Regions from separate parts of the Homo sapiens genome. Here region 2 is linked to region 1. Evidence: fine-mapped expression QTL. A gene starts in region 1. The other region holds a variant in brackets. All regions are shown on one strand. Distances are from middle to middle.

Region 1 (5,000 bases):
ATTAGAATCAAGGATTTTGGCTGGGCACAGTAGCTCATGCCTGTAATCCCAGCACGTTTGGAGGCCAAGGCAGACAGATCATTTGCGGTCAGGAGTTAGACACCAGCCTAGCCAACATGGTGAAACCCTGTCTCTATTAAAAATACAAAAAATGAGCCAGGCGTGGTAGTGCGCACCTGTAATCCCAGCTACTCGGGAGACTGAGGCACGAGAATCGCTTGAATCCAGGAGATGGAGATTGCAGTGAGCTGAAATCACGCCACTGTACTCCAGTCTGGGGTGACAGAGTGAGACCCTGTCTAAAAAAGAAAAAGAAAAAAAGAAAAGAAAAAAGAAAAAGAAAAAAAGGAAAAGAATCAAGGATTTTGATCCTTATCATAAGAGCAATGGGGAAACTGATTTTTTTTTTTAATGCAGTGAGATGACACCATCAGATTTGTGTTTCCATATGGTATCTCTGGCTGCAGCATTTACAGGAATACAAGAGTGGATATGAGGCTCACGCCTGTAATCCCATCACTTTGGGAGGCTGAGGCGGGGAGATCAGGAGGTCAGGAGATCGAGTCCATCCTGGCTAACACAGTGAAACCCCATCTCTAATTAAAATACAAAAAATTAGCTGGGTGTGGTGGCGGGCGCCTGTAGTCCCAGCTACTCAGGAGGCTGAGGCAGGAGAATGGCGTGAACCCAGGAGGCGGAGCTTGCAGTGAGCTGAGATTGCCCACTGCACTCCAGCCTGGGTGACAGAGTGAGACTCCCTCTAAAAAAATAAATAAATAAAAAAGGAGTGGATATGAGGGTATCCGTTAAAGCTTTACTAGACCAAGTAAGCTTGCTCTACAGTAGTAGTAATAGAAATATAAAGCAGACTTGTAAGATATTTAGAAGATAAAATCTGCAAAAGTTGGTGAATTGTATATTTTGGAATAAAAAAAGGAAAGTGTTAAGGATGACACTGGGATTTAGGCAACTTTAATGGAAGGAAGTTATTTCTTTCTTTCTTTCTGAGATAGCACTGATAAAAGAAAACGTGTAGTGGGGGGAAGAGAAGCAAGTCATAAGTGTGGTTTTGAACATGTTTCATTTGAAGGGGCTTTTAAAATAGCAAAAAGGATATCTCAACAATTCACTTGAACATCCAGGTATAGATCTCAGAGAAATCAGAACTGGGAACATAAATTTATGAGTCACACGGCAGCATAATGCAGTAGTACATGGTGTGTTTAGCCAGACAACCTGGATTTGGAGCCTGGCTCCATCACTCACAAGCTCTATGACCTCTAAAAATTTGTTCACCCTCTCTGAGCATCAGTTACTTCATCTGCATATAATAATTATTTTATTAGCTGTTAGGAGTAAATTAATTTTGTAAAACACTTAAATCAGTGCCAAGGACATACATGTGTTTGGTGGTAAAATAATGGGTGGAGGTGGTAATTCAATCCAGGAGCATGAATAAAACCACGAATCGAGACAAGACAGTTTGAAAACATAAGAGAATCAGTGATCAAGCTGAAAGGAACTCCCTTGAAAAGGGAGATATCTTCAAAAGAGATTGAGAAGGTGTAGACAAAAAGGTAGGAGCAAAACCAGGAAAGTATATTGCCAATGGCGTCAAGATGAGGGACTAATTAATAGTGCTGCGAGGAAAAATTCTCAAATAGTGTGAGATAAAGAGCATCAACTGCAATGGACAGCTGAATAAATGATTTAATGAATACAATGGATGTTCTGATGCAACTCCCAGATCTCCCTTCAGAAATAAAGGTCTATATGACAATAAGTGATAGTTTCGATGAACGTAGGCTGGAGGAAAGAGTTAAGTAAGTCTAGAGGCAAAGCTTCAGGAAAGAGGAGTAAATGGGAAACCTTCAGAGAAGCAGCAACAATAATCGCTGGCCACAGGCAGGCGTTTTAAGTTTTCTCAGGCCAGAAGTGCATGACTCCAAAAAAGCGCGCCGATGTCTTTTAATGCACTGACGGGAGAGAAAAACGTACGCTAGCGGCGAGCACAGAAGCAGAAAATTTATGATTGACCCCGGAAACATTTTATTTTGCGTAGGTGTCGGGAGAGCTTTCTTTTGCGATTTGTTCCTTGATCCGGAAGAAAAGATAGCAAATATCACTTGCCATTGGATTGCATCATAAGGGTTGGGCTTTAGCGAGCCAGTCACCTTGGCAACCGGACGTGACGACCCCGGAAGACGCCCGACCGAGCTTTGCTCCAGCTATCGGCTTCAGTGGGCGGGGCGGCAGAGCCAGACTGACGCAGTCTTCAGCACTGACCAGGCTCTGTTGGGGGTGGTGCCACCAAGGCCACGCCCCCTGCGCCTGCTCCGGCGGAGTCTGGAGAGTTGTCGTAGGCTCTGAGGGCGGAGACTCACGCCGATTCTCTCTCAGCGTAGGGCTGTGAGGGCGCAGTCCACCGCCAGGAGCCTTCCGGTTTCTGCGCGGTGCGCGACCTCGTCCCGAAGCCTGGGGATACACCCTCTCGAGAGCCCGCTGTCGCCCTCCGTTAAGGTCGAACCCCTCACAGTTGCTGTGGGCAACTCCAGCCCAACATTCCCTCGCTCTGGTTCTCGCCCCATTGGGAAACTCGGCCCCACGCTTCCCACTTTTCTGGATGAGGTGTCCCCTTTCTCCCCACTAAAATGTCAAATAACCTACGGAGGGTCTTCCTGAAACCCGCAGAGGAAAATTCAGGCAACGCCTCGCGTTGGTAAGTACCGGTTTCGAATCCTCCCCACGGCTGCCCCTCTGTCCGTCTTAGGGATGTGGAGTCGGCCGTCGTTTCCGGACGCTGTGTAGTTGAGAGGAGTTGGAGCCCGCAGAGTGCGCCACCCAGGCGGGAAGCGCTTGTCTCCGCGGCGCTTAAAGCCCATAGAGCGCTTTCCTCTGGGAAATGTAAAACCTCTTTAGAGCCTGACACAGCGGCTCCGCGGGACCCCAGCGTCTCAAGTTTAATAGGCGGACCGAGTAGATCTCCACGGGAGATGAAAACCAAGATGGCCGACGCTCTTATGTGACTCAAACCTTCTGGAAGATTCTCACGCACACGCAGAAACGCAGCAGTCAGCACGGATTAGCAAGTGCAGCCCTGGTGGCGCTGGACCTTCAGTGAAAATAGATTTTAATAGTGAGACAGAAAGGGTGTGTGATTGAAGAAAAAGGGCTTTAGAATGAGGAGATCGAATATTTAAAATTTCAAGTAATAGTTTTATGTGAAGAGAGAGAAGTAAGACTGGAGAAATCCTCGTGTAAAGTCAGTCCTTTTGAACAGCCTTTTTGAAGTAGGGTGTAATGAAGTGCCATTTCATTGGCTATTTATATTTGGCATGAGGAGAGTCCAGTATTTCTAAGGAAGATATTCTTGTAAAGTTAGAAAATAGATGATCAGTAACTTAGTTTTTGGGTTTTTTTTTTTAAATTGTATTACAAGGAAATGAATTGGAAACAATGTTAGCTAAAGCAGAATATTTTCACTTGTACTCTCACATGGTTAGTAGATTAAGTGATGAGGAAAAAATAGGGTCTGCAGACTCTAATAAGAAAATGAAGAACTAAGATGCAAAACTCATGGAAGAGGATTTTCGTTTGAAGAAAATCAAGCTACCTGGGGTTAATCTCAACTTTGCTAGTTAGCATTTGTGAGGCCAGGTACCTGTTTCCAGTCTGTAAATAATAGCACTTAGAAATATTTTAAAGATTAGGAGAATGAAATAATGTAAAATACGTCGTGTAGGAAAATAGTAAAGCACAATTTAAATGTTAACTATTACTATTATAAGCATACAACTTTAATTCTGTACAGATTTTAGCCCAGCAGGTAGTTTTCTTTAATTGCAAGTAGAAAACTCCATTGCAATAAAGACCGTAAGTAATGGTGAGTCCTTAAAAGCAATATTATAAAAGGAAATGGTCACTAATAGTAATGAGCCAAAATTCTGTTGAACTGTCAAGATAGAACCATTGTATTTCAAATCATAAAAAGAGCCATTTTTTGGTGTACTTGTGTGTTTTTTTCTTTTTTCTTTTTTTTAATTTTGTGGTGGAAGTTTGGGGGAAGGGGCAGAGAGTGCCCTGTGTACATATGAGAAAGTAGAATTACTTTTTAAATGATTAATTTCTGCAGCCTTATTTTAGTACCTGAATACTTACTGACTTCTGACTTAGCTTAATTTATAGAAAATTTGTTTTAGGATTGCATTTTTAAATACAAAAAGTAAGATAAACAACTTTACTTTGTGTGTGTGTGTGTGTGTGTGTGTGTGTGTGTGTACCCTTAACTCTGTTATCCAGTTTCTAATCCTTTTGGGGATTTGGAGATTTTTAAATTACAAATTACATTCATAAGTCATTTTGAGTTCATTAACTCATTGATTTATGCATTGTTTTTATTATTTTTGAATGTATTTATTTAAATCATTGAGGTTTTACATCATATATTTGGGACATTTACCAGATGACTTTCTGAAGCTTCGACATTTACTTTGGTTAATGGTTGCGTATTTGATTCCATTCTGTTCTGTAAGTAATAAAACATCCAAATATAATTTTGTAAATAATATTAACGGCCCTTGTAGTTTATTGGAAACTTAGTTTTCTTATTTTTCTGGTAACATGTTTGATGGTACTAAATCATTTATTTTTATAACTTAAATGACTATGATTTTCTTATTGTTTGTAGCTTAAATATTTCCTGTTACTGCTTATTTAAAATTTTTCAGTAGCATAATACAGAATTGTATATTGTTGTATATTGTTTGAAGTATCTCTTAATTCATCAGAACATCACATGTAAAACCCAAATTTAATCTTAGAGTACAAAGGAAAAATCTGGAAGATATTTGTGATGGTATGCATTTAATTTATATTGATTTGGGTTTTATTGTCGAAGAATAAAGCAGGAGTCAGAACGCTATAGTGGAAAGAACCTTTTAAGTCATAGAGACTTGGGTTCATATCCTAGCTTACCACTTACTATCAATACAGTTTAAACA
Region 2 (5,536 bases), 43 kb after region 1:
CTCCAGAGTAGCTGGGGCTACAGGTGTGCACCACCACACCCGGCTAATTTTTATATTTTTAGTAGAGATGGGGTTTCACCATGTTAGCTGGTCTGGAATTCCTGAACTCAGACAATCCGCCCGCCTCAGCCTCCCAAAGTGCTGGTATTACAGGTGTGAGCCACCCTACCTGGCCAAGTTAGAGTTCTTGAGGTGTGGAAGTTATCCTGGATTATCCAGGTGGGTCCAATGTAATCACAAGAGGAAGAGAAGGAGAGCTTTGACTATGGAGGAGATAAGGCAATGTTACGATGGAAGCAGAGTCTGGAGTGATGTGGCCAAGACCCAAGGAATGCCATAGCCTCTAGAAGCTGAAAGAGGCAAAGAATAGATTCTCCCTTAATGCATGCAGAATGAACAGAAATGCTGAGACTTTGACTTTAACCTTTTAAAACTCATTCTGGGCATCTGATATCCAGAACTATGAGAGAACAAATCTGTGTTGTTTTAAGCCATTAAGTTTGTGGTAATTTGTTACAGTAGCAATAGAAAACAACTACAATGTGTGTTTATTTGAAAACAATTTGTATTATTCATATTGGACGGATAACTTTATATATGGGTTTGTTAGGACAATTTTATTAATCACGTTTCCTAAATCTTCTCTATCTTTACTGATTTTTTTTTACATCTACTTATTCTATTTACCTGTTTTTGTTTTGTGCTGCTATAACAGAATATCTGAAACTAGGTAATTTCTAAAAACAGAAATGTATTTCCCCACAGTTCTGGAGGCTGAGAAGTCCATGATCAAAGCCCCAACATGTGGTGAGGGCCTTCTTGCTGCATCATAACATTGCAGAAGGCACTGATATGAGAGAGGGAAGAAGGCTGAACTCATCCTTTGTAAGGAATCCACTCCCACAATAATGATTTAACTTCCCCAATAATGGCATTAATCAATTCATGAGGGCAGAACCCTCAAATCCTAATCATCTCTTAAAGGTACTACCTCTCTACATATACATCATAGAATACTATGCAGCCATAAAAAAGAACAAGATCATATTTTTTGCCGGGACATGGATAGAGCAGGAGGTTTATCCTTTTCCTTAGCAAACTAACACAGGAACTCAAAACCAAATACCACATGTTCTCACTTATAAGTGGGAGCTAAATGATGACAAGTCATAAACATAAAGAAAGGAACAACAGACACTGAGGTCTACATAAGGTTGTAGGGTGGGAGGAGGGAGAGGAGCAGAAAAGATAATATTGAGTACTGGGCTTAACACCTGGGTGATGGCATAATCTGTACAACAAACCCTCATAACACAAGTTTGTATACCAAACCTTCACATATACCCCTGAAACTAAAATAAAAGCTTTTTTTAAAAAAGGTACCACCTCTCATCACTGTTGTCTTGAGTCTTAAGTTTCTAACACATGAACTTTAGGAGGCACGTCTAAACCATAGCACTATCACTGAAAAAAAGTTTGCTAGACATATCCCACTATAATTATCTACTTGTCTATTTCTCTCTATGGTTCTGTCAGTCATTGCCTTTATAAATTTTGAGACTATATAATTTGACATATAACATTTTTTAAATTGCTATTATTTTGGTGACTTGAAGTGGTCTTTCACTTATAATAATGTTATTTTCCTTAAACTATTATTTTGCCTGATTTTAATAATGCTTTTTTGTTGTATTAGTTAAATTTTGTTTTTATTCAATTTTATGATTTTTAAAAAAGTTGGACCTTTAATTGTTTTACATTTGGTGTTTCCATTGAAATATTTGGATTCACATTTCCATTTTATTTTTTATTGTTTATTAGTCCCAACAGAAAAGTCCTTTCTTGATATTTTTTGACTGAATATGTTTTCCTTTTTAATCATTTCATTTTTTTTCTATTAGTTTAGAAGTTATTCATACTATTTCTGCACTTCACTGGTAACCCAAGCATTGAAAACATGAACACTTAACTACCAAATTCGTAACTTAATTAAAACCTTTACTCACCTACCAGATGATACAAAGCTTTTAGAACACTTTAACTTCATATACACACCTCACAATTCAAATGTTATTGTCTGGGAATTTGAGTAGACCTTTTAAGTATATTTTAAACTTCATAAACATGATTCTGGTTTTGGAAAGTCATGTTCATTTGTACTTGCCCACTTTTTTCCCTCTCTTCATTTATTCTTGCATCTTAGACATTCTCCCTAGGACCACTTTCCCTTTGCCTGAAGTATATCTTTTAGAATTTCTCCTAACTAGATTTTGCTGGTCGTAAATTCTCCCACTTGTCTCAAATTGTTTTTATTTCACTTCAACCTTTTAAATTAATACACTTTATTTATTAGAGCAGTTTTAGGTTCACAGCAAAACGGAGTGGAAAGTACGAATTTTCTATATATGCCTTTTCCCCACCGCATGTACCGCTTCTTCCACTATCGACAGCCCCCATCATAGTGGTGTATTTGTTACAATCAATGAATTTGCACTAACACATCGTTATCACCCCAAAGTCCAGAGTTTAAGATTCACTTTTGGTGTTGTAC[G/A]TTCTATGGGTTTTGACAAATGTTATAATGACACGTATCTACCATTGTAGTATTATAAGAAATAATCTCACTGCCATAAAAAATCCTCTGTGCTCTGCCTATTTATTTCTCCCTCCCCACTTAACCCCTGGTAACTACTGATCCTTTTATTGTCACCATTGTTTTGCCTTTTCCAGAATGTCTCATAGCTGGAATCATACATTAGGTAGCCTTCACATTGGCTTATTTCACTTAGTAATATGCATTTAGGGTTCCTTCATGTCTTTTTGTAGCTTGGTAATTTTTTTTAGCATTGAATAATATTCTATTGTCTGGATGTACCACAGTTTGTCCATTCATCTACTGAAGTATGTCTTAGTTGCTCTCAAGTTTTGGCAATTATTAATAAAGTTGTTATAAACATCTATATGCAGGTTTCTGTATGAACATAGGTTTTCAATTCTTTTGGGTAAACACCAAAGAGAGCATGATTGCTGGATCATGCGGTAAGAGCATGCTCAGTTTTGCAAGACTATATTCCAAAGTGGGTGTACTTTTTTATTACCACCAGCCACTAGTGAATGAGAGACTTCTGGTTGTTTCACATCCTCCAAGCATTTGATGGTGTCTGCATTTTGGATTTGGGCCATTCTATTGGATATGTATTATATCTCATTGTCTTAGTTTGCAATTTCCTAATGACATATGATGTTGAACATCTTTTTATATGTTTATTTGTCATCTGTATATCTTCTTTGATGAGATGCCTGTTCAGATCTTTTGCCTAAGTTTTAATTAGGTGGCTCATTTTCTTATTGTTCAGTTTTAAGAGTTCTTGGGTTATTTTGGATAACGACCCTTTGTCAGATGTGCCTGCAAATATTTTCTCCTAGTCTGTGGCTTGCCTTCTAATTCTCTTTTTATTATTTTCATTTTGAAAGACATTTTCATTGAGCATAGAATTCTAATTTGGCAGTTATTTTTCTTTAGCTTTGAAGTTATCATACTACTGATTTTAGCCTCCAGAAAAGTTTAGCCAATTTACCACTTTTTGGAAGATAATCTTTTTTTTGTTTGGAGGTTGTATTAGTTAGGGTTCCCTAGAGGGACGGAACTAATAGGATAGATAGATAGATATAAAGGGGAGTTTAATAAGTATTAACTTACACGATCACAAGTTCCCACAATAGGCTGTCTGCAAGCTTGAGGAGCAAGAGAGTCCAAACTTCAAAACTGAAGAACTAGGAGTCCGATGTTTGAGGGCAGGAAGCATCCAGCACAGGAGAAAGATGCAGGCTGGAAGACTAGGCCAGTCACACCTTTTCGAGTTTTTCTGCCAGCTTTATATTCGCTGGCAGCTGATTAGATTGTGCCCACCAGATTAAAGGTGGGTCTGCCTTCCCCAGCCCAGTGACTCAAGTGTTAATCTCCTTTGGCAACACCCTCACAGACACACCCAGGAACAATACTTTGCATCCTTCAATCCAATCAAGTTGACACTCAGTATTAACCATCACAGATGTTTTAAGGATTTTTCTCATTGACTTTGGTTTTCTAGTTTCACTCTGTTGTGCCATTTACTTTGTCAGGTACTTGTAGGTACCACTCATAAGAAACCACCTCAAAGTAAATGTATAGCCAGCAATTTTTTGGCTGACCTAAGCTATGTCTAACTCAGGTGTAAACTGGAGGGCCAGGCCGTGGCCCCCACTTCTTATGTCCAGTTTTATATTCCCTAAATATTATGCTCTGTTTGCTGGCAGAGAAACTCCTTCCAACTGGGTGGAGGGAGTGGTTTTTCTTCTGGTTGGCTCTTAATCTGAGTGTGTAGTTCTTTAGTGTCCAGTGTAATGTGTGGAGAAGATCTCCTGTAAGACTCCTTGCCTGGGGAAGTTCTTCCTCTGACTTCTGTACCATGAAGACTCTGAACCAAAGCCCAAGTGTGTGAGGTCTCTAAATGCTCAATACATTTTTGGGTGCTGATGTTTTGCCTATCTTTCTCATAAAATTGGCCTTGGAGTTTTCTCACTGTCTCTTCAAGTTGTCCATTCTTCTAAGGTGATTTTACAAATATTTTATCCCTCATTTCTATTATTTTCAGTGAGATAGTATATCCAAATAACCTCATCACAATTATCAGAAAACTAAATCTCCTGAGTTTTTTTCTTTCATTTTATAATTCTTTGTCATTTATACATAACGTTTAATTAATCTTTGGATTTGATATATCTTTATCAACTATGATACATTTTTAAATGTTTTGTCTATTAGTAATAATGGATTGACTATAAAATAAAATCATTATCATCTATGAGTAATAACAATATTATTTCTCCCTTTCCATTCTTATTTTTTGTTCCTGTCTTACTACACAGTCCTGATCTTCAGGACAGTGCTGAGTATTAGTGACAGCACACAATCTTATCTTGACATCAGTCTCAAAGGGAATGTTCGGCACCTCATCATTAAGCAAGGTGTTTGTTGCAGAGTTTAGGATTTCTTTTGGTTTTGTATGTGTGTGTATTTATGTTTGTGTAGTGGAGGGGAGGTAGGTGTTTTTAGATACCTTTTATAAATTTAAGAAAGTCAATTTTTAAAGTAATTTTGTTAAAAGTTTTTAATTTTAAATTTCATTCAGTGCATTTTGATATATTAAGATAATCTTACATATTTAATCTATCAATGAATTAAATCACATTTAATGATTTTAAAACTAATGTTTTTAATTTCTGAGACAAAATTATTTGAGCATAAAACACCATTTATATGTTGCTGAACAAATTCTGTTAGGATTTTGTTTAGGATTTGTATGTTATGAATAAGATGGTGCTATAATTTTCCTCTCTCATATTGTTCTTTGCAAGTTATAGATCTCAAACTAATCCCAGTCCCTTACCTATATCACCCCTTAGCTGATCTAATTTTTTTCCATAGCACATATAACTTTATAACATACTATACAGTTTAACTGTTTACTACAGCTATTTTTTTATGTTGACCTCTCTC

Evidence for each region. PIP is the estimated chance that this variant, and not a neighbour inherited with it, causes the effect.
Region 2: its variant is the best candidate, but not a certain one, in a credible set for the expression of LRIF1 in whole blood (INTERVAL, PIP 0.55).

The regions. Positions count from the first base shown.
Region 1 is chr1:110,961,340-110,966,339 of GRCh38, reverse strand. LRIF1 (ligand dependent nuclear receptor interacting factor 1) reads left to right here and starts at 2,418. Exons shown (of 4, transcript NM_018372.4): 1 at 2,418-2,719. The coding sequence starts at 2,652. RefSeq lists enhancers at 2,550-2,759, 2,294-2,830.
Region 2 is chr1:110,917,662-110,923,197 of GRCh38, reverse strand. It overlaps a transcript of LRIF1 not described here. Among named protein-coding and RNA genes, the nearest start is that of LRIF1, 43 kb to the left of the region's middle. The variant G/A (reference allele first, on the strand shown) is at 2,552.